Regions from separate parts of the Homo sapiens genome. Here regions 1, 3, 4, 5, 6 and 7 are each reported to be linked to region 2. The links are microRNA targets in miRTarBase. Many come from high-throughput screens and were not tested one by one. Region 2 holds a microRNA gene; each other region holds the end of a gene's coding sequence.

The links. The annotated mature microRNA hsa-miR-6825-5p reads UGGGGAGGUGUGGAGUCAGCAU and lies in region 2 at 2,767-2,788, shown strand. An mRNA with a match to its seed (bases 2 to 7 or 8) in the 3' UTR can be bound and repressed. Matches are read on the target gene's strand: a 7mer-m8 pairs with bases 2 to 8, a 7mer-A1 pairs with bases 2 to 7 and ends in A, and an 8mer does both.
Region 1: the mRNA of LTBP4 is a reported target of hsa-miR-6825-5p. The part of its 3' UTR that is shown has no 7-base or 8-base seed match.
Region 3: the mRNA of SLC2A4RG is a reported target of hsa-miR-6825-5p. Seed matches in the 3' UTR shown: 8mer at 1,339-1,346 and 7mer-m8 at 1,458-1,464.
Region 4: miRTarBase lists LENG8 as a target of hsa-miR-6825-5p. Seed matches in the 3' UTR shown: 7mer-m8 at 1,721-1,727.
Region 5: the mRNA of SLC47A1 is a reported target of hsa-miR-6825-5p. The part of its 3' UTR that is shown has no 7-base or 8-base seed match.
Region 6: the mRNA of MLEC is a reported target of hsa-miR-6825-5p. Seed matches in the 3' UTR shown: 7mer-m8 at 526-532 and 7mer-m8 at 100-106.
Region 7: miRTarBase lists REG3A as a target of hsa-miR-6825-5p. Seed matches in the 3' UTR shown: 7mer-m8 at 400-406.

Annotation. Positions count from the first base shown.
Region 1 is chr19:40,629,294-40,633,569 of GRCh38, reverse strand. LTBP4 (latent transforming growth factor beta binding protein 4) reads right to left here. Exons shown (of 30, transcript NM_001042545.2): 30 at 3,752-4,174. The coding sequence ends at 4,020. Among named protein-coding and RNA genes, the nearest start is that of LTBP4, 30 kb to the right of the region's middle. RefSeq lists an enhancer at 2,080-2,670.
Region 2 is chr3:127,573,737-127,578,092 of GRCh38, reverse strand. It overlaps MIR6825 (microRNA 6825), which reads left to right and starts at 2,762; the gene lies at 2,762-2,827. TPRA1 (transmembrane protein adipocyte associated 1) reads left to right here. Exons shown (of 11, transcript NM_001136053.4): 4 at 1,017-1,103; 5 at 1,200-1,272; 6 at 1,397-1,476; 7 at 2,043-2,153; 8 at 2,284-2,344; 9 at 2,588-2,690; 10 at 2,828-2,908; 11 at 4,305-4,356. RefSeq lists enhancers at 2,058-2,636, 2,637-3,216 and a silencer at 2,604-2,783.
Region 3 is chr20:63,741,690-63,746,045 of GRCh38, forward strand. SLC2A4RG (SLC2A4 regulator) reads left to right here. Exons shown (of 8, transcript NM_020062.4): 4 at 180-367; 5 at 441-541; 6 at 647-926; 7 at 1,010-1,101; 8 at 1,190-2,361. The coding sequence ends at 1,301. ZBTB46 (zinc finger and BTB domain containing 46) reads right to left here. Exons shown (of 5, transcript NM_001369741.1): 5 at 1,981-4,356. It overlaps ZBTB46-AS2 (ZBTB46 antisense RNA 2), which reads left to right and starts at 2,136. Exons shown (of 3, transcript NR_186425.1): 1 at 2,136-3,039; 2 at 3,839-3,986; 3 at 4,134-4,262.
Region 4 is chr19:54,460,185-54,464,540 of GRCh38, forward strand. It overlaps LENG8 (leukocyte receptor cluster member 8), which reads left to right. Exons shown (of 16, transcript NM_052925.4): 16 at 582-1,832. The coding sequence ends at 744. LENG9 (leukocyte receptor cluster member 9) reads right to left here and starts at 3,594. Exons shown (of 1, transcript NM_001301782.2): 1 at 1,548-3,594. The coding sequence starts at 3,342. The coding sequence ends at 1,906.
Region 5 is chr17:19,576,480-19,580,835 of GRCh38, reverse strand. It overlaps SLC47A1 (solute carrier family 47 member 1), which reads right to left. Exons shown (of 17, transcript NM_018242.3): 17 at 1,802-3,509. The coding sequence ends at 3,283. It also overlaps the pseudogene SLC47A1P1. Among named protein-coding and RNA genes, the nearest start is that of SNORA59B, 21 kb to the right of the region's middle.
Region 6 is chr12:120,696,220-120,700,392 of GRCh38, reverse strand. It overlaps MLEC (malectin), which reads right to left. Exons shown (of 5, transcript NM_014730.4): 5 at 1-4,077. The coding sequence ends at 3,848. Among named protein-coding and RNA genes, the nearest start is that of MLEC, 11 kb to the right of the region's middle.
Region 7 is chr2:79,153,224-79,157,483 of GRCh38, reverse strand. REG3A (regenerating family member 3 alpha) reads left to right here. Exons shown (of 6, transcript NM_002580.3): 6 at 191-478. The coding sequence ends at 258. Among named protein-coding and RNA genes, the nearest start is that of REG3A, 4.4 kb to the left of the region's middle.

The sequences.
Region 1 (4,276 bases), not on the chromosome of region 2:
TCTTGCTCATTTCCCTACAGTAATCAACTCTCAGCTCCAACATCTCCTCCTCCAGGAGCCCTCCCTAACCACCCCCCAAGGCTGGGTTAAAGTTTGTGTTCCTCGAATTCACTTATTGCAAAGCAGGAAAATATTTGTTGAATGAATGACTGAGGAATTAGTGGTTGGGTCGGGTTCCCTGTATCAGCTGGAGGGTAACTTTCTGAAACGCTTTGTAGAGTCGGCGTTTTTAAAGAAGGGCTTTATTGACTTATGATTCACATACCACACAAGTCACCCATGTGTAGTGTATAATTCAATGATTTTTGGTACAGACAGTTTTGTGCAACTGTCACCCCTTTGTGGAGCCTTGAGCCACTCCTTGTCTGACACTCCTCCCCACCAAGGCCTTGTGTTAGGTGTTTCTCACTGTCCTGTTGAAGGGGATGGGGTCTGGCCTCCTCCTCCACCCTGGGAGGGAGAATTGGTAAAGAAAAAGACCTAGCCAGGCCAGGTGCCGTGGGTCATACATGTAATCCCAGCACTTTGGCAGGCCAAAGTGCAGGAGAATCACTTTAGCCCAGGAGTTTGAGATCAGCTTGTGCAACACAGTAAGGTCCCCTCTCTACAAAAAATAAAAATTAAAAAATTAGCTGAGCATGGTGGCACATGCCTGCAGTTCCAGCTAATTGAGAGGCTGAGGTGGGAGGATCACTTGAGCCTGGGAGGTTGAGGCTGCAGTGAGCCATGGTGGCACCACTGCACTCCAACCTGGGCAACAGAGCAAGACCCTATGTCAAAAAAAAAAAAGAAAGAAAGAAAGAAAGAAAAGAAAAGGAAGAAGGAAAGGAAAAGAGAAAAGAACAAGACCTTACTATCTGCCCAGCCACAGGGCTCAGCATATCCTGGGAGGCCCAGGGTTATGCCAACAATGACTGAGCCCTTGCTCTGTACCAGGTGACATTCTAAGCACATATATGACAATTCATTTAACCACCACCACCAATCCTGCAGGGTAGGCGCTCTTAGTATGATTCCCCGATGTAGCACAGGAGGCTGCTGGGCATGTGACCCCTCCTGACACTCAGCGGGTGGGCTGGAGATCAGGTCAGGAAGCAGCCTCCAATCCACAATTTATGCAATTTCAGCAGTGCCTAGAGGATTAAAACTGGAGCCTCATAGGCCAAATAGGCCCCATAGGGTACTATATTAGTCTTTTTCTGTTTGTTTTTGGTTTTTTTGAGACAGAGTCTTGCTCTGTCACCCAGGCTGGAGTGCAGTGGCCCAATCTCAGCTCACTGCAACCTCCGGCTCCTGGGTTCAAGCGATTCTCCTGCCTCAGCCTCCCGAGTAGGTAGTATTACAGGCATCCACCACCATGCTCTGCTAATTTTTGTATTTTTAGTAGAGATGGGGTTTCACCATGTTGGCCAGGCTGCTCTTGAACTCCAGACCTCAGGTGATCCACCTGTTTCAGCCTCCCAAAGTGCTGGGATTGCAGGCATGAGCCACCGTGCCCGGCCCTATTGGTCCATTCTTACTCTGCCATAAAGATACCACCCAAGACTGGGTAATTTATAAAGGAAAGAGGTTTACTTGATTCACAGTTCTGCATGGCTAGGGAGGCCTCAGAAACTTACAATCATGGCAGAAGGCAAAGGGGAAGCAGTCACCTTCTTCACAAGGCGGCAGGAGAGACAGCGAGCCAAGGGAGAAGAGCCCCTTATAAAACCATCAGATCTTGTGAGAACTCACTCACTATCACGATAACAGCATGGGGGAAACTGTCCCCATGATCCAATCACCTCCCACCAGGTCCTTCCCCGGATTACAATTCTGATTACAATTTGAGATGAGATTTGGGTGGGGACACAGCCAAACAATATCAGATAGTTATTAAAAATATACATTAAAAAAAACTTTTTTGGAGACAAGGTATGCCTTTGTCACCCAGGCTGGAATGCAGAGGCACGATCACAGCTCACTGCAGTCTCGACCTCCTGGGCTCAAGCAATCATCCCACCTCAGCCTCCCAAGTAGTTGGGACTACAGGCATGTACCATCGCACCCAGCTACTTTTTTGTAGAGATGGGGTCTCACTATGTTGCCAGGCTGGTCTCAAACTCCCGAGCTCAAGTGATCATCCTGCCTTGGCCTCCCGAAGTGCTGGGATTACAATCGTGAGCCACCCCGCCAGGCCAAAAAAAAGTATTAACAATGGGGAAAATTCCCCTTCCTAGTCTAACCAAGCCTTAGGCAGAAGGTAATGTGTGCCTCAATTTTCCCTGCTTCCTGCTAACATTCCGGTTCTGGTCTTTGCAGCATATGAGTTTGAAACCCTGGGGACACAAGAATTGACAGGTGGGTGAAGAATGACAGGTACAGTTTTGTGGGTTTTTGTTTTTGAGATGCAGTCTGGCTCTGTCGCCAGACTGGAGTGCAGTGGCGTCATCTCGGCTCACTGCAACCTCTGCCTCCTGGGTTTAAGTGATTCTCCTATCTCCGCCTCCTAAATAGCTGGGATTACAGTTGCATGCCACCATGGCGGGCTAATTTTTATATTTTTAGTTGAGACCAGGTTTCACCATGTTGGCCAGGATGGTCTTGATCTCTTGACCTCGTGATCCGCCTGCCTGGGCCTCCCAAAGCGCTGGGATTACATGTGTGAGCCATCGCGCCTGGCTGAGGTACATTTTTTTTTTTTTTCCCAGCTTGGCCCAGTGCCAAGTTGATCACCCACGATTCCCGACCCCTACTCCTGCCCTAAGTTTATGCTGATCTAGGCCGTTCTTGTTTTTTAGGGAGGAGGAGTCTGGACTAGGAACATGGCCAGTAAGCAGGCAGGGCACATGGAGGAGGTCCGTGCTGGGCACTCCACCATCACACACAGAGCTCATTCCCGCCTCCAGCTGTCAGGACTGCCGCTCCATACTCCATCCACAGCCAACTCCTAGCTGGAGCGTCAGGTCTGGGTTTGGCCCTCCAGGGACTCCTGCTCCCTGCTCTTGCCCCACTTGTTCCAGGACAGCTTAAGACTTCTAGGCCAAGCACGGTGGCTCACATCTATAATCTCAGCACTTTGGGAGGCCGAGGTGGGAGGATCACTTGAGCCCAGGAATTTGAGACCAGACTGGGCAACATAGGGAGACCTCATCTCTAAAAAATAAAAGCTGGGTGCGGTGGCTCACACCTGTAATCCCAGCACTTTGGGAGGCCAAGGTGGGTGGATCACCTGAAGCCAGGAGTTTGAGACCAGCCTGGCCAACATGGCGAAACTCCGTCTCTACTAAAAATACAAAAATTAGCCTGGGTTGTAGTGTGCACCTGTAATCCCGGCTCCTTGGGAGGCTAAGGCAGGAGAATCGCTTGAAACCGGGAGGCAGAGGTTGCAGTGGATGGAGATGGCGCCAGTGCACTCCAGCCTGGGTGACAGAGTGAGACTCCATCTCAAAAAAAAAAAAAAAAAAAAAAAAAAAATCCAGAGGCAAGATTGCTCTCGAGATGAAAGAACCAAACAAAGAGAAGGGAAAAGAGAAAGACGCATGCAGAAACAGAAATGAAAAGACAGGATGTAGAGGTTAGGCAGAGAAAACAAATCAGAAAGAGACAGAGATGAGATAGAACGACAGAGACAGAGAGAGAAGGAAGACAGAGACCAAGAGAGGCAGAGAGACAGACGAAACTAGGGGTCAGAAGGGAAGGGAATGTCATTTAGTGACTCAAAGCACAAACTGGGGTAGACTTGGAGAAATAGACAGGAGGAGGCAAAAGATAGAAAATAGGTGGTTTTTAATGGAAAATTTTATAAAAGGGAGAGGGCATGTAAAGGGGCCCCTGGGCCAGGCCCGGGACCACGACATCAGTGGGAGGCGCTGGTGGAGGCGGGAGCAGTGCAGGGCGTCGCAGCTTCCAGGCGTCCGTAGGTCCCTTCTCCAGGTCCAGGCGGGCGGCCCCGTGCACATACGCATAAGCGGGCTGCAGGATGCGCGGCAGGGGCCCCGAGTGGCGGGCGCGGGTGGGCGGCCAGCGGGTGCCAGGGCTCAGGCCCGGGGCCGTGCGGGCGCACAGTGGTGCGGCTGGTGCGTGGGTGCGAATCCCGGGCGGCAGATGCAGCGGAAGGAGCCATCCGTGTTGAGGCAACGCGCGTTGACGCACAGCGGGGAGGCAGCCTCGGCCTCATCACACTCGTTGATGTCTGCGGAGGGGAGACAACGATCGCTGCTGAAGGCTGGGGCCCCAGAAGCTCGCCTCCTTGGCCCCTTAAGTTCTTGGAACAGAGGAGCACAGATGCTGAGCA
Region 2 (4,356 bases):
AGTTCCTGGGCCTCAGGCACAGCAGGATTTGGGGGCACAGCAGTGCTGCTGGGGCACCATCTCCATCTCCCACTCAGCCTGGGATCTCCCCGATGGCCCTGCTCTCTCGCCATCTGCCCTTGTGGCAGCAGGGTGGTGTCCATGGTGCCAGGCTTGCATGCTGTCCGTCTGCCTTTCCCAGCAGCCCCACCTGACATCCTGGGTCTCTCTCACAAGGCTCCCTTGGGGCCTATGCCCTTCCCTGAACTAGCCCTGAGGCCAGGGGAATGGCACACACCACTGGCCAGTGCTGCGTCCCAGGCCCATCCCTGAAGCCAGGAGCGGTGGACTCAGCCTCACCTGGAACCACCGAAGTGGGGGTGAGAAGGGAGAGGAAGGGGATGGATATACCAGGCCGATAAGCACCACAGATGCTGAGCAGGCACTTTGTGAAACCTGCTGGGCTGGTGGCTTCCCTAGAGGTCTCTGCACCTCTTCTCGGTGACCTTTTGCCTGGTCCCGCATGCCTCAGAATTAAAACCATGAATACGGTAATAACAGCAAATGTATACTTGGCCCTTCCTGGGTGCCAGGCAGGCTTCTGCTGCATCTGTTAATCCATTTGACCCAACAATCAAACACAGTAGGTTTTGTTTCTGCCCCCATTTTATAGATGAGAAAGCTAAGGTACAGAGCCAGGAAGCAGCAGCGTGCTGCTTGTGATGTGAACCTGGCCCATCTGGCTCCACCATGCGCACTCCTGCTCACCAGCCCAAGGCTGTTGGTGCTAGCCAGGAAGCTGGGGCCCCGAGAGGGAGGGCCAGGCTGGAAGTCACCTGCAGTTGAGGGTCTGCAACTCTGTGAGCCTTGCTTCCTGGAGTGATCCCCACCTCCCTGTGTCCCACCCTGACTTTGCGCCTTCCTCCTTTCCGACCTCAGGAATCAAAGGCTCCTGTAGATATGGGGGTGGGCTTGCTGCCCCTGCCGATGCAGAGGCTCTTGTTCCCTGACTGCCACACCACTCCCTTGCCCACCAGGTGTTTGTGGTGGCGCTGGTGGGCATTGCCCGGGCCGTGGTATCCATGACGGTGAGCACCTCGAACGCTGCAACTGTTGCTGATAAGGTGCGGCTGGGCCCTCTGAGGGAGGCCAGGGAGGCCTGGCCTGGGGTGGGCTGGGGATGCTGGTCCAGGCTGACGCTGTGCCCACTCTGCGTGCAGATCCTGTGGGAGATCACCCGCTTCTTCCTGCTGGCCATCGAGCTGAGTGTGATCATCCTGGGCCTGGCCTTTGGTGTGTGTACCGCTGGGCTCTTGGGCCCTGGCGATGCTCTCCCCTGCCCCTCCCTGGCTGTGGGCTGACTCTGGAGTGGTCACCTGGGCTGGCTCCTGCCTGCTGACCAGCATGTTTCTTCCAGGCCACCTGGAGAGTAAGTCCAGCATCAAGCGGGTGCTGGCCATCACCACAGTGCTGTCCCTGGCCTACTCTGTCACCCAGGTAAGAGGGTGAGTGTGGGCAGGGGACGCTAGGAGTCAGGGCACCAGGCACCCACTGCTTCTGGGTCTGGGTCAGGTTTCCAGTCTTTATCACCTTCAGAGTTCTCAAAACTTTGCACCTGAGAAATCACATGGGGTGCTTGTTACCGAGGCACATTCTGGGGTCCCCTGGAGATTTGGATCCAGTGGGCCAGGGCGCCAGGATGGGAGGCTCAGGACTTGCCGTTTTAATAAGGAGTTCAGGTAGGGATGGTGCAGGTCCGCAGACCCCCCTGAGAAGCATGCATCTAGAGGCCCCTTTCTTAGATTGGGGGCAGGGACTGCACCTTGTCCATCTCTGCCCCCTTCCCCATGTGACTCAGCCCAAGACTGGGCCGGCTCTGGATGCTGCAATCAGTTGGGCAGGACATGGCCAGGGAGCAGACTGGGGCAGGTGAGTTGAGGGTCAGGCCAAGAGGCTGAACTTGGTGTGGTGGAGAGCTTAGGGGGCTTTGCATCAGGGAAAGCCCCTGGGAGAGAGAAGCCTTGAGATCCTCTCCCTTCCTCCCTTCCTGCTTGCCCCTGCAGGGGACCCTGGAGATCCTGTACCCTGATGCCCATCTCTCAGCTGAGGACTTTAATATCTATGGCCATGGGGGCCGCCAGTTCTGGCTGGTCAGCTCCTGCTTCTTCTTCCTGGTGAGGTTCAGGCTGGGGCAGCTGGGGTGGCTGGGGCCTTAGGGCCAGGTAGGGATTGGATTCCTGGGTTTCTGGCTGTGGGTCTGGGCTGGCGCCCCCAGCACCTTCTCAGCCCTGCCTGTCTCTGTAGGTCTACTCTCTGGTGGTCATCCTTCCCAAGACCCCGCTGAAGGAGCGCATCTCCCTGCCTTGTGAGCAGCTGGCCGGCGGCTCTGGGACAGGCGGGGATGGGAGGGAGTCTACCGGGCCACTGTAGAGCTGGTAGCTGGGAGCTGGAGCTGTAGAGTTCCAGGCTGGGAGCTGGAGAGCCCTGGGTGAGAGGGAGGCCTAGAGGGGCCCCGGGGGACACACCAGGCTTGAGGGTAGTAGGTGCTGGAGGCAGAGCCTGGCCTGTCCAGGGTGGGACCTCACGACCCACCCTGTCCGGCCCCCAGCTCGGAGGAGCTTCTACGTGTATGCGGGCATCCTGGCACTGCTCAACCTACTGCAGGGGCTGGGGAGTGTGCTGCTGTGCTTCGACATCATCGAGGGGCTCTGGTGCGTGGGGGCCGCAGGGTGTCTGCCTCGTGGGGGCATGGGAAGTGGGCGGCAGGGTGTCCACCCGCTGGGGGCATGGGGAGGTGTGGAGTCAGCATGGGGCTAGGAGGCCCCGCGCTGACCCGCCTTCTCCGCAGCTGTGTAGATGCCACAACCTTCCTGTACTTCAGCTTCTTCGCTCCGCTCATCTACGTGGCTTTCCTCCGGGGCTTCTTCGGGTGAGTCTGTGGCCGCCGGCGCCCCCGCGTGGCTGCCGGCGGAACTGCGCCTTCTTCCAGCATGGGTGTGAGGATTGAAGCTGAGAGGCTGTGTATGCATACAGTGCGCATGCGCACGCACATACATACATGCACTTGGGCACACACATACAGATACACATGCACATGCACACAGATATACGCACACCCACCCACATGTGCATGGACACGTGCACATGCACACACGGATGCACAAGCATGCACACATGCACATGCACACACAAACACGCACATACGGATACACACGGGCATATGCACACAAACATGCACGTGCACACCCACATGCATGCATACACACATGAACACGTGCTCAACATATACATACATGTAGATATATGCACATATCCACATATACATACATATATATGCACATTGTATGTACAGTACACACAGACATACTCTCCCCACGAGAGAGAGAGTGACTATGCACGGTGTTCTACATTGCTGGTTTTTATTTAATAATATATTAACTCATTCATTCGCAAGCATTCATTGAGCACCTACTGTGTGCCAGACACTGCTAGAGCCAGAAGATGCGAGGCCCACAGCGGATGCAAATCCTGTCCTCACAAAGCTTGTACCCTGTTGGGGGAAGACTTAAGTGGGGAGCAGGTTTGGGGTGGGAAGTCAGTTGGATTCTCTGGGGGTGAGTACACTGCTGTGCACATGTGCATCTGCAGAAGCGTCTGTGAGATGGGATGCTGAAGACATGGGATTGGGGGTCCCACTCCAGACCTTAATGTGGTCGGAATGTGGGTGTTTTGTCCCCCCTTTCTCACCTGCCAGGTCTTGTGGGGAGGGGATCAGCCTCCCACCTGGGTGAAGCTGGGAGAGGGCCAGACTGGTCCATGGCCCCAGCTTGGATCTTTGCACACAATTTCTCCCCTGAGCCTCAGGCTCCTTTTTGTAAATTGGGTGTAGTGTGTCCCCCTTGGAGAGTTGCCCTGAGGGCCGAGGGACGAGGTCAGAGTGGAGTGGGTGGTAACATGAGCAGCAGGGGTCACAGGAGTGGGGGCGGAGGCCACAGCCAATGTCTCCTGAGTGCTTGGGCAGGCACTGTTGAAGCCTCATGATTTATGTCCATTCTTCCTCCACACGGTGTCCACACACCCATTTCACCATGAGGAAGCAGGCACAGATGCCCCCCGCCTGAGCTCACACAGCCAGGGGGAGGAGGGCTGGGTTCCAAAACAAGTCTAGATGGGCTCTGGGGTCCAGCTCACAGGCCCACTCAGAGTGGGTGTCAGGCGACTGTTGGTCAATTCCTTCCTTATCTGGTGGCCCCATCAGCCTGGAGAGGAAGGCTCTTCCTGAATCACTCAGTGAGGCTTCCATGCCCCTCTTTTCCTTTTATCAGCTCGGAGCCCAAGATCCTCTTCTCCTACAAATGCCAAGTGGACGAGACAGAG
Region 3 (4,356 bases), not on the chromosome of region 2:
CACACACGTCTGCCAACCCTTTCCTGTGCCGGGGGGGTTTCTCCCCAAGCCCTGGGGCCAGCTCCTCCAAGACGCTCTGCCCACCAGTCTCACCGGACTTGGTGAACAGGGGCAGCTCAGGATTAGGGACTCCCTGGACCCACCCGAAGTTCTAAGGCGGGGGGCCCGTGTCCCCACAGAGCCTGGCCTGGAGCCCTGGAAGGAGGCCCTGGTGCGGCCCCCAGGCAGCTACAGCAGCAGCAGCAACAGTGGAGACTGGGGATGGGACCTGGCCAGTGACCAGTCCTCTCCGTCCACCCCGTCACCCCCACTGCCCCCCGAGGCAGCCCACTTTCTGTTTGGGGAGCCCACCCTGAGAAAAAGGAAGGTGAGCTTGGGGGCGGCCCCCAGGGAGGGGCGGGTGTGGCGGCTGAGCCTGACCCTGGCCCCTGTTGCTGCAGAGCCCGGCCCAGGTCATGTTCCAGTGTCTGTGGAAGAGCTGCGGGAAGGTGCTGAGCACGGCGTCGGCGATGCAGAGACACATCCGCCTGGTGCACCTGGGGTGCGGCGGGGCCTGGGGTGCGGCGGGGCCTGCGGGTTGGCTGGGGTTGTGAGGCCCGGCCAGGCCACCCCTTCAGCTCCCACTGGCTGGCTGTGTCTCCCGCAGGAGGCAGGCAGAGCCTGAGCAGAGTGATGGTGAGGAGGACTTCTACTACACAGAGCTGGATGTTGGTGTGGACACGCTGACCGACGGGCTGTCCAGCCTGACTCCAGTGTCCCCCACGGCCTCCATGCCGCCTGCCTTCCCCCGCCTGGAGCTGCCAGAGCTGCTGGAGCCCCCAGCCCTGCCTAGTCCCCTGCGGCCGCCTGCCCCGCCCCTGCCCCCGCCCCCTGTCCTGAGCACCGTTGCTAACCCCCAGTCCTGTCACAGTGACCGTGTCTACCAGGTGGGTGAGGCCACGGGTGGCAGCTGGGGCGGGTCTCAGGGCTCTCTGGAGGGGAGTGAAGCCCTGGCTGTGTCTCCCTGTAGGGCTGCCTGACGCCCGCCCGCCTGGAGCCGCAGCCCACGGAGGTCGGAGCCTGCCCACCCGCCTTGTCCTCCAGGATCGGAGTCACCCTGAGGTGCGTGTGGGCTGAGGGCCTGCGGCTGGCACCAGGTGGGGAGGGTCCTGGTCTCACAGCACCCCATGTCCTGTGACCCCCCGCACAGGAAGCCCCGCGGCGACGCGAAGAAGTGCCGGAAGGTGTATGGCATGGAGCGCCGGGACCTCTGGTGCACAGCCTGCCGCTGGAAGAAAGCCTGCCAGCGGTTCCTGGACTAAGTCCGGCTCGTTCAAGAACATAAGCTACCACCTTCTCCCTCCCCACCCCCTCCAGGCCCGGGGCTGAAACAGCCCGAGGACAGCCCCAGGGGCTGGCTTTCACCAGCTGCAGGGTCTGCTTTTACTTGGGGTGGGGGGGCGGGGCTGACCCTGAACCCTCCCCCCCGCCAGGTCGGGGAGGGGTCCCACCACTCAAAGTGCCTCTAAAGAAACCAGCTTTTTGCACTAAAGCCAAACCACACCGCTGTCCCCTTAGCCCCAAGGGCCCTGGGGGCAGCCACCCTCCCGCCTGTCGGCCCGTAGATTTATCAAGGGTGTTATGGGCCCAGCTTTGGGGGGCCAGTCCCGATGCACTTTGAGGGGTGTTGGAGAGGGGACTCCCCCACTCGCACTTAACTCAACGGCTCTCGGGCCCTGGGGCTGTTTTTACCATGTTTGTTTTTGAAGCTCAGGTGTCTCACGTCTGGGCTGCACCAGGCGAAGAGAGAAATTAAAGATTTGAGGTTTTTCCAGAAGCTTTGTCTGCCTCTCGGGAGGAAGGCCGTGGGGCTGGGACCCTGTGGTGGGCAAGTGGGTGGAGTCTGGCAGCTGCCCACAGAGGGCCGAGGGTCACCCGTCGGCCGCCGCCACCCCAGGCGAGGCCGGAGGAAGGATCATCTGAGACGCAGGAGGCATCTGCTGGAGCAGCAATTTCCCAATTTATTGAAAGTGATCGCTTTGCAAGGATGTCTAAGCTAATCCCGTCACAGAAAGGAAACGCACAGGCGCCTAGGCAGAAACTTGGAGACTCACCGCAGAGGCCACGTGAACCCACGGCCACAGAGAGGCAGGACGGCAGAGCCATGATTTCCCACCGAGCGATTACGAGAACCTCTTCCCCCAATAGTAGACACATCTCCAATACAAACACAGGTTTATAATAAGTAATAGGAAGTCAATATAATATAGATTATCCCCAGAAAAAAATCAACAATCTTCAAACACTGCCCTTTTTTTGTGTGTTTTGTTTTTGTTGACAGGTTGAAAGCATGTTGAAAAAAATAAATATTTAAGAAAAGCACACACAGCACCCTCACTACAAGTAGTTCTAAAAGGGCTGCATACAAAACACAATATAAGATCTAAAAAAAACCACCACCATTAAGTATGGCTTTCTTAAGAGTCGCACATGTCACAGAATGAGCTAAAATAAGATTACTTCTTTTATAATATTGCAAAAAGTTCCAGTTTTTGCATTTTCTCAGTTTTTTAAAGAGGAAGATGTGCAAAGTTGGAAGCAGTAAGCTGCGTCTTCTGAGTCAGTTCCCTACGTAGCCCTGGCAGTGTCCTGTGTCCCAAAGCTCAGAGAGCCCCAGTGTACAACCTGGTCAGGATCCAGAGCTTGACAGAAAAATCGTGGTGTCCCTGCCCCCTCCCCGCCCCCAAATAACACCATCCCCAATGGACTGTATTTCCCACTTTGGTGTTGTAAACACCAAAATACAAACAGACACAAACAAAAATACAAAATGTGAAATGTAATCTACACATTTTTCCTCTTCATAAAAAAATATTTATTAGTTTGAACATCGATTTAAAAAAAAATCAGTCACATAAAAAAAACCCTTCATGACATGTCTTTTCCCTCCACGCCTCCTGAGATGGACGTGCTCACCTGGGCCTCGGAAATCCCACACTCTTCAGTCGGCAAACTGCGAACAAGAACAGGAAATCTGCCACGCAGCAAACACTTGGGGAGGTCAGTGGGACACTGTTGGTTTTAGGGAAGAAAATGCCCCTGTAGCTCCGGCGGGGAACCCCAAAACGGTCAGCAAAGGCAGGCCACACGGAGTGAGCCGGCCAGATGGAGCAGGACATCCTGAGTGTGGAGGGGGAGGCGGGCCTGGGTCCTGGGCAGGGTGGCCTGAGAGCAGGGACTGGTACAAAACCCAGAGACATTGGTGGGTAGCAAAGGTCTGGTTTCCAAATGCATTTTGTAAGAAAGTCAGTCTGTTTAGAAAAAGGGTTTAAAAATCAGGGGAAAGGTACAAAGTTCTGAGAATTCTCAAAGAGGCCGGGGTGGGGCTGGCCTGGGGTGAGGGCTGGAGGGCTCCGCTGCAGCTCCCTGGTAGCCATGCTCTCCCCCTGGGGGACTCGTGCCAGAGCCACCCACCTTGCTCGGTAAGAGTGGGCAGGGCTCACCGCTGAGGGGCCAGCGCTTGGCCCGGCTCCTATCCCCACACTCCGTGTGCAGAAAAATCTTGGCCTCTTTCTCCAGCTTTGAGGAGCCCACAGCCTCCGAGCTGAGGGGTGTGTGTGATGACAGCTCCAGCCAGGGCACCCTGTCATTGGTAGAACCGGGGGCCAATGTCAAAAAACAAAAGCCGTGACTCCTGCGCTGTACCTGGAGTCCTCCATGTACTCCTCCACAGGACCCCCGGCCAGCCCCAGCCCTCCCCGAGCAGCAGCGGTCAGGGAAGCTGGTGCTCTACCTGACAATGTGGGGAAAAGCCTGGTATACAGGCTAGAAAAAGAGAGTAAAAACTCTTTCCACGCAGCCCTGAAGCTCAGCACTCCGGGGGGTCTTCACACGGGCAGGTCCTGGAGGGAAGGAGGAGGCCACCGCGCCCACCTCCCATCTGAAGGCACAGCACCGCAGTGGTGGCCTGTGCCAGAGGAGGGGGTGAAGGATGGAATGTCCTCATGGTGAGTGCTGTCAGAGGCAGGCCTGAACGAGAAGACAGGCCGTGGCAACGGTCCCGAGGCTGTGAGTCTAGGCAGCCTGCCTCCGGGACCCCCAAAGCCAGGCGGTGCACCACAGCACACACCGTGGGACCTTTGCTTTTCACTCAGGAAAAGAAAGAACATGTGAGTGCTTCTGAAAACACAGCAAGAGGACTTGAGCACAAGCTAAAGGAAAAACAACCCTATATAGTTTCTTCGAGTGAGAAAAATAATGCCAAACAAAATAATTTTATGTAACTACCTCGATATGTCTCTGACTACTTAAAAATTTGGTTACCCACGCGGGGAGGTGTAAGCAGCACACTGCAGTTAGGAACACCGCCTCCAGTGT
Region 4 (4,356 bases), not on the chromosome of region 2:
TTCCTGTGTGTGTGGAAAGGGTAGGGCTGCACCCTGTGGAAGAGGGTTCAGGGAGCTCTGAGGACCTGGCTCGTGCTAGATGCTCAGTCAGTAGTGTGTTTTAGCAGCAGCCGGAAGTGACTGCTTTCAGTGTGTAGTGGTGAGTGCTAGCTGGCACCCCTGCGCCTGGCTTCCCAGACACTGTAACGCAGGGCAGGGGAGGCAGCGAGGGCTGGGTCCCCACGGTGGCCCTGGCAGCCCCGCCATCCCCATCCCCTGCCACGTGCTGCTCCCTCCATCTGGTCCCTGCCCCTCAGCCAGCGGAGGAGCCCGCTGGGCCCTTCCCTGCCCGTCCCCGCTCCTCCCTGGCCCCCGCACAGGTAAGTGAGGGTGAGGGGGGCACAGGGGACTGGGGTCACTAACCCCCCCCGGGCCCCCCCCGAGCCCCTGAGGTGGGGAGGCTGGGAGGCGGGTGGGGAGCCAGCAGGCACTGTGCTGAGGAAATCCTGTGGGCACCCGAATGGGGGGGCCTCCCCGCTCGTGGGGCCCTCCCCTGCCCTCCCGCCCGCCCGCCTCATCACCTTCTCCTCTTGTCTCCATAGCTTCCGCCCTGCGCTGCCAGTCTCCTACCTGCAGGCCGAGCTGGCCTTCGAGGGCGAGGCCGCCTGCCGGGCCTTCCTAGAGCCCCTGGGCCTGGCCTACACGGGCCCGGACAACTCCAGCATCGACTGCCGCCTCAGCCTGGCGCAGCTGTCAGCCTTCTGAGCACCCAGCGAGGAGGGGCGGGGGCAGGGGCTGCAGCCCCCAGCGCTGCCTTTGCGGATTCTGTTTTTGAGCCGTGGACTTGGGTTGTAAATTTATTTGTGGGGAGTGCGCTCCAGGAAGAGCCACCATCCCTGCCCCCGTTTTCCCACCGGGGAGTCTGTACAGAGATTTTTCTACGTTTTTATTTTTTGCCTCAGAGGGATGGGATTGGGGAGGAGGGGATGGGCAGCGGAGGGTTGGGGGCATGGTCTGCAGGCTCATCTGTGTCCGCCTTTCACTCCACTAATGCTGTCTCAGTGTTTTCTCTCTCTCTCTTTCGAGCTTGCACTCCGGTACCCGACCCGGCGCCCTGGCCCATCCCATGCCGGGGGGCCAGTGGAAAGAAGACAGGCCGTCCAGCCCGTGCCCGCCTGCGGCGGGGGCACCCAGCAAGCCCGCCCACCGCCCGCTGCCTCACCTGCTTCGCCACAGACTCTTGTTCCCAGCCCCTTGGGGCCTCCGTGTTTGGGGTGGGGGAGCTGCTTAGAGACTGTGCCCGTCCTCGGCCCCCCACCCTGAAGTGCCAGCACCACCAGCACCAGATCCTCCGCCGCCACACCGCACTGAGGACACGCCGGCCGGGCCGCCTCGTCTCAAGTTGTATAAAGTTGTCTCCGTGTCCCCTCCTCCCTCTGCCCCCAGTGTTTCTTCTGATTTTTTTTTCCCCTTTCCCTCCCTCCCTCTCCGCATTCTTCCCTTGGTTCAGCACAGGTAAAACGGTTCCCCTCCCTCCCTGCCTTCATGGATCACCAGCTCACGTCATGTTGCCTTCTCTTTTCTTTGTGTGTGTGTTTATTTAAGTTATTTTTCTTCCTCCTCTCCCTTTTCTTTTTGGCCCTCCCTCCCTCCCTCTTCTGCCATGTAACTGGAGGATGTGCTATGAGTTTGCAAACAGCTGGACTGTCAGGCTGCTTTTTTTCCAGATGTTCCTCCTCTGCCTCCCCTTCCCCTCCTCTCCCCTCCTTTTCCTTCCTTCCTTCCTTTCCTTGGAGCACTGAGCACCATTTGGAAGCTTGAGAGAAACCAAAATTAAAGAGAGAAAGAGAGAGCGTGCACGCTCCTGCTTTGTCTTTCCTGTGTGGGCTGTTTGCATCCATTGTCTCCTCCAGAGGTCTGGGGGTGTCACTCCAGGGGGATCTCAGCCAGGGGCTGGAAAGGCCCCCCTGTCCTCCCTATACGGCACAGCCAGAGTGTCTGCAGGGGCTGGCACCCCACTTCCTGGCTGAGGGTGAACTCCAGCTTGGGGAGGTGGACCTGGGAACCATGGGGCACCTTGGCCACGGTGAGGTGGGGGTGCAGCTGCCCTGGAGACTGTAGTGTACTCAGCCCCTCGGCTTCCAGCCTCTGGCTCAGCACTTGTGCCATGCTTTCCAGTGTGGGAGAGGGTGGGGCACACAGCACATGCGGGCCCAGGAGGACCAGCTTTCTAAAGCTCAGCCGAGGGGGTGCATTTAGCCCCGGGGCCAAGAGGGCCCGTCTCAGAGCTCCAATGGCAGCGGCCTCCTCCCCAGCGCCTGCCAGTCGCAGCAGGGCCAGGGTCAGGTGTAGGTTCTGAGAGGGCACTAGGAAGTTGGCGCAGTGTGGGGCCACGTGGACCAGGTATTCCTGGGCCTTGGTCACTTCTGCTTGTAGCCCAGGCTCGGTCACCATGAGGGCCACAAAATGTGTGGGGCGCGGTTGGCAAGGGGCTGCAACACTAAGGCGGGCCCTTTTGTCCTCGGGCCAGGCCGCAGGACCCCACTCGGCTTCTGTCGTCTCAGCGGAGCCCCCCGGGACTCCCAGGGCCTGTGCTTCCTTGCCCCCCAGCAATGTGGTCCTGGTGGCTGCTGTTGGCTTCAGTGCCTCAGTCACTCCGGCGAGGCGTCCTCTTGGGGCCAGTGTTCCCAAATCAGCAGCTGTGCCCAGCGCCCTCTCCTGGGCCGCCTCCAGCTCTCCGGGTTCCTCCACGCCTGGTTCCTGGTGCCCTGTGCAGAGCGGCCTTGTGCTCCCTCGCTTGGGGGCAGCCTGGGCCTCCTGACCTGTCCCCGCCAGTGTCCACTCGGCACCCTCTGCCCCGTGGGCGCCCTCGGTGTTCGGTGCGTCCAGGATGGTGGGCCCGCGTCCCGCCGCCGAGCCAGAGCCAAAGACGAGGTCGGTGCGCGAGGCGCGGTCCCACACAAGGCGGCCACGGAAGCGGAAGAAGCGCACGCGGTGCTGGGGCACTGCCAGCACGCCCGGCCCGAGCGCCGCCAGCGGCTGGTCCCAGCAAAAGGCGCTGAAGGGCTCCTCGCGCACACCCAGAAAGCGGTCGACGTAGCCCACCGAGAAGTCGGCGGGGTCGAGGCGCGGGTCCCAGCGGATGCGCTGGATGACGTCCGCGGCTGTGCGCAGCGGCGGCTTCTTGGCCCCGGCCTCCGGCTGCGCCTCGCGGCCAGGCGGCGCCGGCGCCCCAGGGTGGGGCTGGCGGCAGCGGGCGCCGAAGCGGCAGCGGCCTTCCAGGAAGAAGCGGCAGGCCGGCGGGGGCGCGGGTTCCGTGGCGGGGGCTTCCTGCGGCAACTCCGGCTCTCTGGCCGCTGCCATGGGTGCGGGGAACTGGCACGCCCGCCGCGCAGACGAGGTCGCCCCGCACGGAGGGCGGCTCCCCTTGGATGCACCGAGCCTCACCCGACAGTGGCGTCAGCGGCCCGCGCTCCGGCCTAGCTCTGGGGACCACGCCGCGTGCCCTCGCGAGGACTCTGGCCCAGTCCCTCCTTGGTGGAGAGCCTGACACCGCTGCTCTGGGACTTCCCGGCTGCGCCCTCCCCCAGCGCCAGGAAAGCAAGCTGCGTAAAGGCTGCGGCAGTCTCGGTCTCCCGGAGCTCTTGGGAGCCTGGCCCCGCCCCTTTCCCGGTGATTGATGTGTGCTGCCTCTTTCTGGGTGATTTACATGTAATGCCCCGCCCCTTTCGGGATGATTACGTGTGCCTCGACCTTTAGGTGATTTACATGTAGTGCCCCGCCCCGTTCCCGGTGATTTACATGTGGTGCCCCGCCCCTTTCCTGGTGATTTACGAGTGCCCCACCCCTTTTAGGTGATTTTTTTTTTTTTTTATGTGTGCCTCTCCCCTTCCCAAGTGATTTACATATGTTCCCCGCTCCTTTCAGGGTAATTTACATGTAATGCCCCGCCCCTTTCCGGGTGATTTACGAGTGCCTCTCCCCTTCTCAAGTGATTTACATGTGTCCCGCCCCGTTCCGGGTGATTTACATGCGTGCCCTGGCCCTTTCCCAGTGATACTTTTGTGCTGCCTCTTTCCGGGTGATTTACGTGTGTGCCTCTCCCCAAGTGATTTACATGTGTGCCCTGTCCGTTTTAAGGTGATTTACATGTGGTGCCCCGCCCCTTTCCGGGTGATTTACCTGTGTCCCATCCCTTTCCCGGTGATTTACATGTGGTGCCCCGCCCCTTTCCCGGTGATACCTGTGTGCCCCGCCCATGAGGGGACGTCTTTAAAGAACCTGGACCCGCCCTCAGTCCAAGTGATTTACATTTGCGGCCCCGCCCCTCTGGGAAACTTACGAGAACCTGGCCCCTCAGTCCAAATCATTTGCATG
Region 5 (4,356 bases), not on the chromosome of region 2:
TTTTTGTATTTTTAGTAGAGACGGCGTTTTCCCATGTTGGCCAGGCTGGTCTCAAACTCCTGACCTCAGGTGATCCGCCTACCTCGGCCTCCCAAAGTGCTGGCTGGGATTACAGGCGTTAGCCACCGCGCCCCGCCCTGTGTGTTTGTTTTTGAGACAGGGTCTTGCTCTGTTGCCAAGGCCGGGGTGCAGTGGTGCGGTCTCAGCTCACTGCAGCCTCGATCTGCTGGGCTTAAGCGATCCTCCTGCTTCAGTCTCCCGAGTAGCTGGGACCATAGGCGGTGCCACCACGCTGGGATAATTTTTGTATTTTTAGTAGAGACGGGGGTCTTGCTATGCTGCCCAGGCTGGTCTCGAACTCCTGAGCTCAAGCGATCCTCCCACCTGGGCCTCCCAAAGCGCTGGGATTACAGTCGTGAGCCACAGCGCCTGGGGACACCGCTCAAATCCTAACCCTTGGCCGCCCGTCGGCTCCTACAGGGGCGAAATCAGGCACCCACCGTGACGGCGAGCGTGACAGCGTCCGGCTCGACCTTGCCCAGATGTCCACAGAAGATGGAGCTGACGAGGCTGATTATAAAGATCATCAACTGCGCAAGAAACTGCGGAGGCGCGGAAAGCAAGGCGCGTTCACAGCCGCCCTCCCTCCTGGAAGCCCGCGCCCACCCCTGCGCGGCGGCCGCTCCGGAGGCGTCGGGCTGGGCGTGAGGACGCCGCACTCACCACTGGGCCCGCGAGCGCCGCCAGCTCAGCCGCCTCCCCCCGCAGGTCCGGGGGCAGCGCACCCCGCAGGCCCCACAAGCCGTCACGCCATCCGAGGGCCCGGAGCCGCTATGGGGGCCGGTCCTTGGCGGCGGCGGGGAGCTCGGCGGGGACCGGGGCGTCGGCGGCCGCAGGGGCCTCCATGCGGAGGCTGGGAGCGGCTGGCGGCGGCGCGGGCGCGGGACCGCAGCGCGGTGTGGGGGTGAGGGGGGCGACCCGATCCCACCCAGCCCCGCCCCTCCCCGTCCCGGACCCGCTCCAGACGCCCAGGGCAATGGTCGCCGCCCGCAGAACTCTGGGGGAGGGCACCGGGAGGGCCCTTGGGGGCTTATGAAGGGGGCTCGGGGAAGGGGTCCCTGCGTGAGAGGACCCCTCGTGTGCTTTTGGATGACACGGGTTTTTATCAGGAGAGTTTGTAGGTCAGGTTGGAAGAGCAAAATGCCTAGAGGGTGGGCAGACAGGACTGAGCTGGTGATTCCATCCTCCCGCGGAGCACAGGGCTGGCGCTTTCTGGCATGCTTCTGGCCTGGGCTTGCTGCGGGTTCAGTGTTTCCGGGAGAGGAGGGGTCCTGCCTCGCAGGGACCCCAGCCTCCCTGCTCCTGGCGGCCCGGGGTGGCCTCCTGGCCGCGGCTATTTGTGGCTGGTGGTTGAAAGAACCTCCTCTTATCCCCAGGGGGTCCCTGCCCTACCTGGCAAGGGGAAGGGCAGGGAGTCCTGTGCGAGGGGAATGGAGACAGGGTTCGAGGGTTCCTGACGAGGAGCTGGGGAGGGGCCTCTGTGGTGTCTGCCCCCTGCCCCCAGGCCCAACCCCGAGGGCCACAGTGCAAGCCTTTACCTGCCTTCCTGGAGAATGGGCCTCGTGGCCCCAAGAACAAGGCACTGAGGGTAGAGATACCTTAAGGTGGCCCCAACCAAAATCAGCAGTTGGGTGTTTTTTACTCAAAGTAGGTAACTTTTCTGATTTTGTTATTTCAGGAAAAGGCCATGCCTAGAGCATTATATCCATCCTAGCACTAAGTCAAAAATGTAGAGGCAAAATCTCTATTTAATGTTTTATTTTGGAAGAAAGAATTGCATGTTCAGGGCATCCATGTAGACCAGTTGGTCCTCGGTATGTCGGAACAACACAGAGAAGGCTGGAGGTTTTATCAAAAGAAATGTCAGTATTGCTCTTTGAGAAAGTTTATTGGCACCAGGAAGGGTGTTGGGAGCTGGCAAGCTACAACTGGTGAGCAACCGGGCAGGCAAAATTATTCCTAGAGCTTCAGCAAGTTCTCTCAGCAGTTATGGACAAAGCTGGTCCCAGCTTACAGCACGCAGTTTCACCAGCTGGATGTGCAGAGAATTACATTACTAGATTAATGTTATGTGCCTGAGGTGCTTTTATCCCTGGCTTCTTGACTTTTGATTGGGTGTGATAAGAATGACTTAATTTGGTGTAATCCACTTTCACAGCACTGAGCATACTTAGTATGTACTGAGGGTTGCTGAATTAACGGTGTGTACCGCACCCCAGGAAGGCTTAATGAAGTAGGATTACTGCTTAAGCTAAGACCTTTATTAAAATTTTGTCCTCTGGCCAGTCGTGGTGGCTCATGCCTATAATCCCAACACTTTGGGAGGGCAAGGTGGAAGGATTGCTTGATCCCAGGAATTCAAGACCAGCCTGGGAAACAAAGGGTAGACCCTGGTATAAAAAATTAGCTAGGCGTGGTGGCACACGCCTGTGGTCTCAGCTACTCAGGAGGCTGAGGTGGGAGGATCACTTGAGCCCAGGAGGTTGAGGCTGCAGTACGTCACGCACACACCCCTACCAGGAATTATCAGTCTTTGTTTGGATTTCCACAGCTCGAAAGATTTCCCAACTGTTTTTCAGTGTCCACAGTGCCTAGATCTAGACCTCAAATGAAGATTAACAAATGCCAGCTGGGCATGGTGGCATACCCCTGTAGTCTCAGCTACTCTGGTGGCTGACACAGGAGGATTGCTTGAAGCCCAAGAGTTCGAGGCTGCAGTGAGCTATGATCGCACCACCGCACTCCAGCCTGCATGACAGAGCAAGACTTCCGTCTATTAAAAAAAAAATTAAAACAAAAACAAATACCATTTGCCCAGTGAATAGTAATCTAAGGCCCAAGGAAAGATATACTGTAAAATATATTTTACATAATTCAAGCAGTATGAATTCTTAAGCAGTTAGTTTATGGGTTTGTGTCTAAAAAAATAGCAGAAGTATCAAAGCCATTGGCCAATGCAGTCAGCACATTGATCCTTGCTTGGTTCAGATAGTGGTGAATTACTACTCATGTCATCTTTCAGACAGTGTCTTGGGCCACAATATAGCTTTTAACCTTAGTTGCTTTTTCTTTTTATAGAAAAATGTGTCTTTGCATTTCCAGCCCTCAAAATCCATGGGCACACCTGAATGACATTAACTCACAGTAAATTGTCACTGGTGGGCCTGTGAATTGTGTGTAAGCTCAAAAGCATCACTTGACCTGACTTTCTTTCCTACCACGTCACTGAATTCTGACATAGAATCTCACTAAAATCCCCACCAGCAAGATTAAGAAGACCCCCAGGAGCAGAAGCCCTCGCCGCAGCACCAGCTGTTTCCTGGACAATTTAGCGCCGTCCTGTGGATGTTCCGGCAAAGGTTCTTCTTGGCGCATCTGCTGATCTGACTGAGGCTCGCCTGTCTTTCCAACATCGTTCGTTAAAATTCCTTCAAGGTTTTCAGGGCACCCTGGGAGGAAAAAGGAACTTAGCAGCTTAAAAGGGATTTTTTTTTTCATTTTTATAAAGGGCTATGTATAAAAGGAATATGTGCTAATAGTGGAGAGAAAGTTAATTCAGGACACTATTGCTACAGTGAATAAATAAAAGAAATCTTATCGCAGAGTGCCCCTCCACTCACTCCTTCACGAACACCGATGATCCTACCAGCGCTGGCTTGGGTGCTCCAGGGAGCACTCTCCCAGGAGCTAGAGAAATAAGGTAGCCCTCTCCATTAAAATTCACAGGGAAGCCGGGCGCGGTGGCTCATGCCTGTAATCCCAGCACTTTGGGAGGCTGAGGCAGGCAGATCACCTGAGGTTGGGAGTTAGAGACCAGCCTGACCAATATGGAGAAACCCCGTCTCTACTAAAAATACAAAATTAGCCGGACATGGTGGCACATGCTTGTAATCCCAGCTACTCAGGAGGCTGAGGCAGTGAGGCAGGAGAATCGCTTGAACCCAGGAGGCAGAGGTTTGGGTGAGCCAAGATGGTGCCATTGCACTCTAGCCTGGGCAACAAGAGCAAAACTCCACTCCAAGGGAAAAAAAAAAAAGGATTCACAGGGGAAATTTTCAAGGAGCCAACACCCATCTAATAAGCATTTCAGAACAAAACACAAGGAGAAACAACCTAAGAAATAATTCAAGTCTGGGTGCGATGGCTCACGCCCGTAATTCCAACACTTTGGGATGCTGAGGTGGGAGAATCCCTTGAGCCCAGGAGTTCAAGACCAGCCTGGGCAACATAGTGATACCTCATCTCTACAAACAAAAACTTTGCTGGGCCTGATGGCGTATGCCTATAGTCCCAACT
Region 6 (4,173 bases), not on the chromosome of region 2:
GGAGGGGCATGGAGGACAATATTCCATGTTGCCATTTGATGCCACTAAGGATCCCCAAGGCAAGAAGACACTTGAATTATGCCAGAGTAGGCCAGCAAAGGGGAGGGAAGGGACAGGGAAGCAGCCCCATGGCAGGGACTATAGGACCCCTGCCCAAACCTGAATCTAGAGGGAATGCCCCACCCTGGCTCAGAGCAGGAGAGGAAAAGGCACTGTGCTGACCGGGGTGGGTCCTTCCCCAACCCCTAGGGAGGGCAGAGAACCTGCTGATTCTTTCCCTGGGTTTCCCAAGGTGAGCCAATTTCTAGGGAAAGGGATTTTAGCACTAGGAAAAGGAAAATACTGCTGCTGTTTTCTGAAGTTCTCAGCTGAGATTTTAGAAACCATATCCAGGCCTTTCCAGGAGAGGCTAGAGGCAGGAGAAGAAGGAAGAGAAATTCCTTAAAACAGAAGCTTCTCCCAAGAGATAAGGAAGTCAAAACCACAGTTCTAAAGCTGGACCAAACAGTTCCCAGGCACAGAAAGGGGGAGGTAAACCTAACTCAAACTGTGCCCTCTCATCAAAGCCTAAATGCCCGCTAACGTGATCCCAGTAGCTCTTAGGCAGGGAGGGCAAGAGAACACGAACACGCTCTCAAACCAACAGGTGGCCCTGTGGGCAGGGCTAGTCTTCCTGGGAGTCTAACGCCATTGACACCTGAAGAAAACTATCTTCCCAGTCATGAGAACTCGGGGTGTCGATTGAGCAGCCTCTCCTCAACAATGGAGATTTTTCAGAAAAGTGAGTCTGGTTTAAGGGACACAAATCCCACAGAGTTTCTTGGCACAATGTTTCAGTAAGCATGAGTGAGACCCAAAAACGTCCAATGAGAGACCAACAGGCCCCTGACCTAAGTCAGAGCTAGACTGCAGAACTCTCAGCCCAGCTCTGCAGCAGACATCTGCGTCATCCTCCCAGAAATTCAACTCAGGCCACACTTCTGGCAAAAGAAGTTTCACCCTGACTGTCCTTGTTTTCAGTCAGCTGGGCTCAGTGGGATCTAAAAACCTGGGACAGAGTGTAGATCCAGTAGAGGAGCCCAGGCCTCTCCTCCACGCACCCCTCACTGGCACCCCTCACCATCTCCCATACATTCCCTATGGTGCAGCCTCTCAGTCCTAGCACTAAGCTCAAAATACAGATAAGAGAACAAACAGTGCAAAAAGCAAAAGGTGAACAACAGAGTAATTCTTGACACATACAATACAAAAATAAAAATAAAGAATCCCACCCCTTTAACCTAAACTTCATGTACCTATATCTTGGAGGAGCCACAAAACAAAAACAAAAACAAAAAAACTTTCAAGTTCAGCATCATGAGCCAGCTGTGACCAGCCCCAGGGAGCTCTTGTTAGCTGGATAGGCTTGGCTCCAGGGGAGTCTACCCCAGCCCCCACCATACTTCTTCCTGTTTCCTCACTTCCCCTTTAGTTTTTGTTAGCCATAGAAAGATGTTCCTTCCTTTCGTTCACAACCAGAGAGGAAAGCGCCCATCCCTAACCCTGAGCTCAGGGGAAAAGGGTGGGCTTGGAAACAGAGGCAGAAGCAAAGCTGCTTGGCTTACAGTACCATTAGGAAATGGCCCCAGGAGTCAGGGTTTCCTTCTGAGACTCTGAGTCACTGAAGGGATGTGTTGAGGTGGAAGGCGGGACCCCCTCCTTCCTCAGACAGACCCAGGCAAACTAACAAACAAGGCAAAATGGAGGCAGCCAGTCCTCCTCCTTCATCTTGACTAACCCAATGGCAGTGGCCCAGGGCTTTGGGGAATTTCGATGGGATAGGAACCAAAGCTACTGCCAGAAGCCTGTTTAGTTAGGATGTCCACTGCCCCAGGCAGGTGGTCCCCAGGACCAAGGCTACAGTACCTTATCCTTTAGAAGCAGGGGAGCTGTGTGAAGCACTATGGGAAGTATACCTCTGACTGCAGCCTCGGGCCACAACCCTCCAGCTGCCTGACTCAATACCCTAGCACTGAGACCCAAGTCACAGCGAAAACAACAGGCTACAATTCTCAAACGACTAAATGCTGGCCTGGAGTAATCATTAAAGAGCCAAAACCCAGGACATGAGCCCAAGAGCTACCTATTTTGTCACATAAGGAGCAGTTCAAATATACAGAGCTCTTAAAAAACATATCTAATAAAGCAAACTCAAAATTAAACACATTCTAGAAAAGCGGGCCTGGCCTGAGATCCTATATTGACTGCTCCAGCCCAAGCTGAAGCTAATCCTGCTGTCTCCCATCCACAAAATTCCTTCTAGCTTGGCTGGGTCCTCCTTCATTGTTGCCCTAACTGGGAAATGGATGACAATGGCCAGAAAGGAGGGGACCAGGGAAGCTTCATTTCCTATAGAAATTTTTTCAGGGAATTCAAGATCGACACTTAGATGCTAAGGTTAGCTTCAGAGCTGCCAAGGCTCTGGCTGACTGGAATTCTTTCAGTCCCATCACACCAAGAACCTGACTGCTACTTGGATAGAGAAATGAAAGGACAGGGGAAGGAGGGGCATACTATTAAGATCAATAAGAAGCATCGCTGGGCCTATATAGCTAATTAGTCTAGTTCCTTGAAGTAGCTCTAGGCATAAACCAAAACTGGCTGAACTGTGACACACAAGAACATGGGAATAAATGAACATCAGATACCAGACACTCTAAACAGTGGTCAGTCACTTAGTAGGGCTCAAATCTCTGAGGTTGCTCTTAAGCTATGCTAACATAAGCCTTTTCTAATCCAAAGACCAGAAGAGACTTTTAAGGTCAAGTGTTCTGTTGCTGCAGGCTGGAAAGCATCCCTGCCCCCTGGCAGCAAGGCCCTACAAAGGGGCCAGTAAAGAACTGCTGGGTCAGGTCCTCCTGGCTGCTGGCTCAGAGATCCAGGGAGGGAGGTACCAACAAGGTGAGGTGGTAAAGGAGAAGACATTCAAGCAGAGAACCCCAAATCCCCGTGTCTCCTTCCCTTCTTGGCTATAACTTAGTGGGATGGTTGAGAGGGAGAAGAAATTTCAAATGAGCCAGATTAAGGAAACAAACAAACAAACAAAACTGAGAAGAAATCAAGTCCCCAACAGGCACTGAAATCAAAATGATTTGTTGTGGTAACAAGTCAGAGGCGATCTGAGGACCCGACATAACCGAAACGTCTTGGATGCTGGACAGTCTATAACTGGCACATGCCAGGGAGACAAGCAATGACAAAGCTCAAACACTAAAGGTGGGACCATCACTGGATTAATCCAGAAAGGCTTCCAGATAAGGAAGCATTTTCTTTCTTTTTTTTTAATCTCCCTACTTTTTTTTTTAAGTCTTTACCGCACAAATTCTACCCCTTCACACACATTCTTTCAATCCCAGGACGTCTGAAGTCTTATCTAGACATAACTTCAGACCGTACCTAACTCCCAGTGCTGGTCGTCTCAGGTAATAAGATGGCATTTCCCTGCTGTTAATTTCTAACCTAAAAAAAGGAACAGTGACTCCTCTGAGTTCAGAGTCCTTTCCACTAGGTATACAAATGAGGATCCTTGAGCAGGAAGGATCCAGTTTACCCTAAGTATCCTCAAGAGGAAAGAGAAGGCTGGGAGCCAGCCACAAAGAGAGGACGAGGACTGAAGCACGTCTGGGACCAGGTGGTGAATGAGGGCTGCTCTCTACTCGCTCTGCCTCTTTTTGTCTCCTTTAATTGATGTGTGTTTTTTTCTCTTTGTTTTTGTTCATTAATCATTGTGAAAAATACAGAAACCAAAACCAATATGGCTGGTTTCTTTCCCACACCCCTCCACCCTGTTCAGGATAGTCATTTGTTCTCACAACCGGCAGAGGCAGAAGAGGGTTGGAATGAAGACTCCGAAGGCCACCAGGATGGGAAACATGAGGCTGCTGTTGTCCGAGGCATAGGGGTTGGGTGTGCGGGGGCCTGACTGCACCCGGTTCTTATTGGTCTGTTTTTTGAGATTAGACCCTTCATCATATTCTTCTTCTTCTTCTTCCTCTTCTTTCTTCTCCAATCCCGGATGAGGCTGAAGCTTTGGTACATCTAACACAAGGAAGAAAACACTGTTAAGACCCACAGCATTTAAGTAAGAGAGACCCTTAAAAGCAGCAAATAAGCCACAATAAAGAGATTGCTGTG
Region 7 (4,260 bases), not on the chromosome of region 2:
GAAAATACAATGTTAGTGTGTCTTCTCTTATCTCCTCTCTTCTCCACTTTCTTTGAATCTCTCTCCTGGATTGGGACACTGGTGAAGGTGAGGGAGAGGCTTTAACTTCTAGGCTAAAACCTGGGATGCCCCTTCATTGGATTCACAAGCTTCCTCAGCCCCATTCCATTTATGTCTTCTGTCTCTCCAGCATTTCTGAGGTGGAAAGATTATAACTGTAATGTGAGGTTACCCTATGTCTGCAAGTTCACTGACTAGTGCAGGAGGGAAGTCAGCAGCCTGTGTTTGGTGTGCAACTCATCATGGGCATGAGACCAGTGTGAGGACTCACCCTGGAAGAGAATATTCGCTTAATTCCCCCAACCTGACCACCTCATTCTTATCTTTCTTCTGTTTCTTCCTCCCCGCTGTCATTTCAGTCTCTTCATTTTGTCATACGGCCTAAGGCTTTAAAGAGCAATAAAATTTTTAGTCTGCACTTGTTTGTCTTGTATATGCCAGTGTCATAGCCATACTCTGAGAAGGACAAAGTGTTTGAGTGGAGGAAACTTTATGGGTCTTGCTTCTTCCCTATTCACCCAGGCCTCTAGGGAAAATGATGAAGTGTGCATCCCTACCAGTGTGTTATGATGAGGGTGTGGGTCCTGCTCATGTAGGATTTGTGTTGTGGAGAGATGAGGACATTTCTCTCCCGCGTACTTACTGCCCTCCCATTCCCGTAGCCCAAACCTGACAGTGTGACATGAACAGATTTAGGAGGCTCTGATGGTGCTTAGAATAGTACTTCTCAGAGAATGGCATCAGCAGGATGGTAGATAGGACTTTCCAGCTCTTGAACCTTCACAGAAACATTCATTTGAACTACTACCCATTAAAATGGAAATACCTTCACAAGAGCTAACAATCCCAAGTGAGTGATTAAAGCATCTGAATGTTGCAAAAAATAAGAAAGGATGCATCGAAGAGGGTAGAAAGAAGACTTTTACATTATTTATATCACCCCTCCATCAATCTCAGTAAGCACAGCATGGAGAGACATTCCCTAAACTTGGGGAAAGAGAGTGAAATAAGCACTTGAGTTTTCCATGGACCCTAACACTAGGTTTGCCTCAGTAAGACCCAGTGGCCTCTGACTCCAGGCAGACACCCTTGGACTTAGACTCCAGGCTGCCTTGATGCCAGGCCAGGCTCTGTGGCCCCAGGCTCTGTGACCCCAGGCTCCAGGTCAGCCCCCATGACTGCAGCCTCCAGTCTTGCCCCAGAAGATGCAGGCTCTAGACACACACAGCATCATGCTTTTCCCCATAGCTCCAGACCACAGGCCAGCACCCACTGACAAAGACTCTAAGCCCACCTCAAGGACAAGCTAGCACTTGCAGCCACAGACTCCAGGGTGACCCCTGAAATCCTAGACATCAGGCCTGCCCATGTGGACCTGCCCTTCAGACCCACCACAGCTCCAGGATAGCTCCCACAGCTACAACTTCAGGCCAGCACTTGCAGACCCCAGCTCCAGACTGACACTCACAGTCGCAGGATACGGTCCTGTCAAATCCCAAACCCTCCCCAAGCCTTTAGGTCCATCTGAGCACAAAGCCCTGATGCTAGGCCAGCCTCTGTGGCCTCTGTCACTAGGCCAGCCCCCACAGACACAAGTTCTGGATTTTCCCAGTTCCAGGCGAGGCTCTGTGGACTCGGTACTAGTCTGGCCTCATACTCCAGCAGACCCAGGATCAAGCTTCATTACAGTAGACCTTAGCACCAGGCCAGCCCCCCCGACTCAGGCTCCAGCCTTAGCCCCATGAATCCAGTCTCCAGACTTACCCCAGAGGCAAGTTGACATTCATGGTCCCAGGCTACAGGCCACCCCCACTAACCCTGGCTCCATACCAGCCCCTGTAGTTTCAGGTACCAGCCCAGTATGCACAGACTCAAACTCCAGACCTGTCCTAGAGACTCAGATACTACATCTGTCCTAGTGCCTGGCTAACCCCTGAAGACATGGGTTCAAGGCCTGCTTTAGAGCCAGATTGGTCTCCAGGAAGTAGGATTTAGTCTGGCTCCTGTGATTAGAGGCTTCGGGCCTGCCCTCATGAAGTGACTGCCTACCCTGGTATACCAAGTCAATAGGTCCACTTGAGGATGCCAGCAGCAAGCCTGCCCAAAGACCAAGCCAGATGGCCTGCCCAGAATCTCTGGATGACTGACTGGTGAAGGGCTTTGTCTGCTAAAGCCAGTCTGTAAAAACTGGAATAAGTGACTACTTGTTCAAAAAGTCAAACACCAAAGACACATGACCACAAGTATCATAAACAATCAAGGAAATATGATATTACCAACAGAACAAAATAAAGGACTAGTAACTGACCTTAAGGGGAAAGAATTTTACAAACTGCTCAACAAATAATTTAAAGCAATTGTCTAAAAGAAACTCAGTGAGCTACAAGAGAATACAGATAGACAACTAAATGAAATCAGAAAAACAATATGTGAACAAAATCAGAAGGTCAAGAAAGAGATTTGTTTTAAAGTTAAAAAAAAACACATAGTGGCTGAACTGAAGAAATGCATGGAGAATTTCAACAGCAGACTTGATCAAGCAGCAGAAAAAGTCAGTGAGTTTGAGACAAGTCATTTGAAATTATCCAGTCAGAGAAACAAAAAGAAAAAAGAAACAAAAAGAGAAAATAAAGCTTAAGGAAACTATGGTACATGATCAACTGAGCCAATATATATATTATGGGTTTTCTAGAAGGAGCAGAGGCAGAAAATGGGCAGAAAACATATATAAAAAATAATGGGTCATGGGGTTTGGCATCCCCATGCCTGTCAGTGCCTCACCCCAGCCAACGAGCATGCACCCAGCCATGCTGCCACTGCCGTGGCATGAGCACAGATCCCACTGCTATCACCCTGACAGAGTACTGTGGTCACTGCCACTTACTGGAGTGTTGTGGCCAGCAATCCAGGAACACCTTTGGACCCCCAGCACAGCAGGTTCCTAACTTCGAGGGGTGAGAGAACAAAGCTAGGGGCCTGATAATAGCATTCCAGAATTGGGGAATGCTGAGCTGAACCTTGGCCCACTGACATCTTCCAGAAATGAAGTGAGTCAACTGAGCCCACCTTATACCACAATCAAACCCCCAAGGGCATCAAAAAGGATAAACACACACACACACACACACACACACACACACACACAATCCATCCAAAAAACAGCAACTTCAAAGATTAAAGGAACGCCAGCCCACACAGATGAGAAAGAACCAGTGCAAGAACTCTGGCAACTCCAAAAGCCAGCGTCTATTTTTACCTCCAAACAATTACACTAGTTATCCAGCAATGGTTCCTAACCAGTCTGAAATATCTGAAATGACAGAAATAGATCTTGGAATATGGATAGGAACCAAGATTATTGAGCTTCAGGCAAAAGTGAAAATCCATTTCCAGGATTCTATACAATAAAACGATACAGAAAATGAAAGATGAAATGGTCATTTTAAGAAAGAACCAAACTGATCTGATAGAGGTGAAAAACTCATTTCAAAAATTTCAGAATACAATCACAAGTATTAACAGCAGAATTGATCAAGCTGAGGAAAGAATCTCAGATCTCAAAGACAGTTCTCTGAAATAACTTAGACACATATTAGAAATTAAAAAAAGATTGAAGAAAATTAAACAAAACCTCTGAAAATTATGGTATTATGTAAAGAGACCAAATTTATGACTCATTGAAAGCAAGCAATTTGGAAAACATATTTCAAAATATCATCCATGAAAACTTCCCCAACCTCCTTGGAGAGGGCAAACTTTAAATTCAGGAAATGCAGAGAACCCCTGTGAGACTACACAAGATAACCATCCCCAAGCCACACAGTCATCAGACTCTCCAAGGCTGAAATGAAAGAAAAAAATGTTAAAGGTAGCTAGAGAGAAGGGGTAGATCACTTACAAAGGGAACCTCATCAGGCTAACAGCAGTGTTGTCAGCAGAAATCCTACAAGCCAGAAGAGATTGGGGCCCTATATTCAGCATTCTTAAGGCAAAGAAATCCTAAACAAGAATTTCATATCCAGGAAAACTAAGCTTCATAAGCTAAGGAGAAATAAGATCCTTTTCAGATAATCAAATGCTAAAGGAATTTATTACCTCCAGACCTGCCTTACAAAATAACCTAAAAAGAGTGCTAAATACAGAAAGGAGTGACCATTACTGGCTACTACAAAAACATACTTAAGTACATAGACCAGTGAC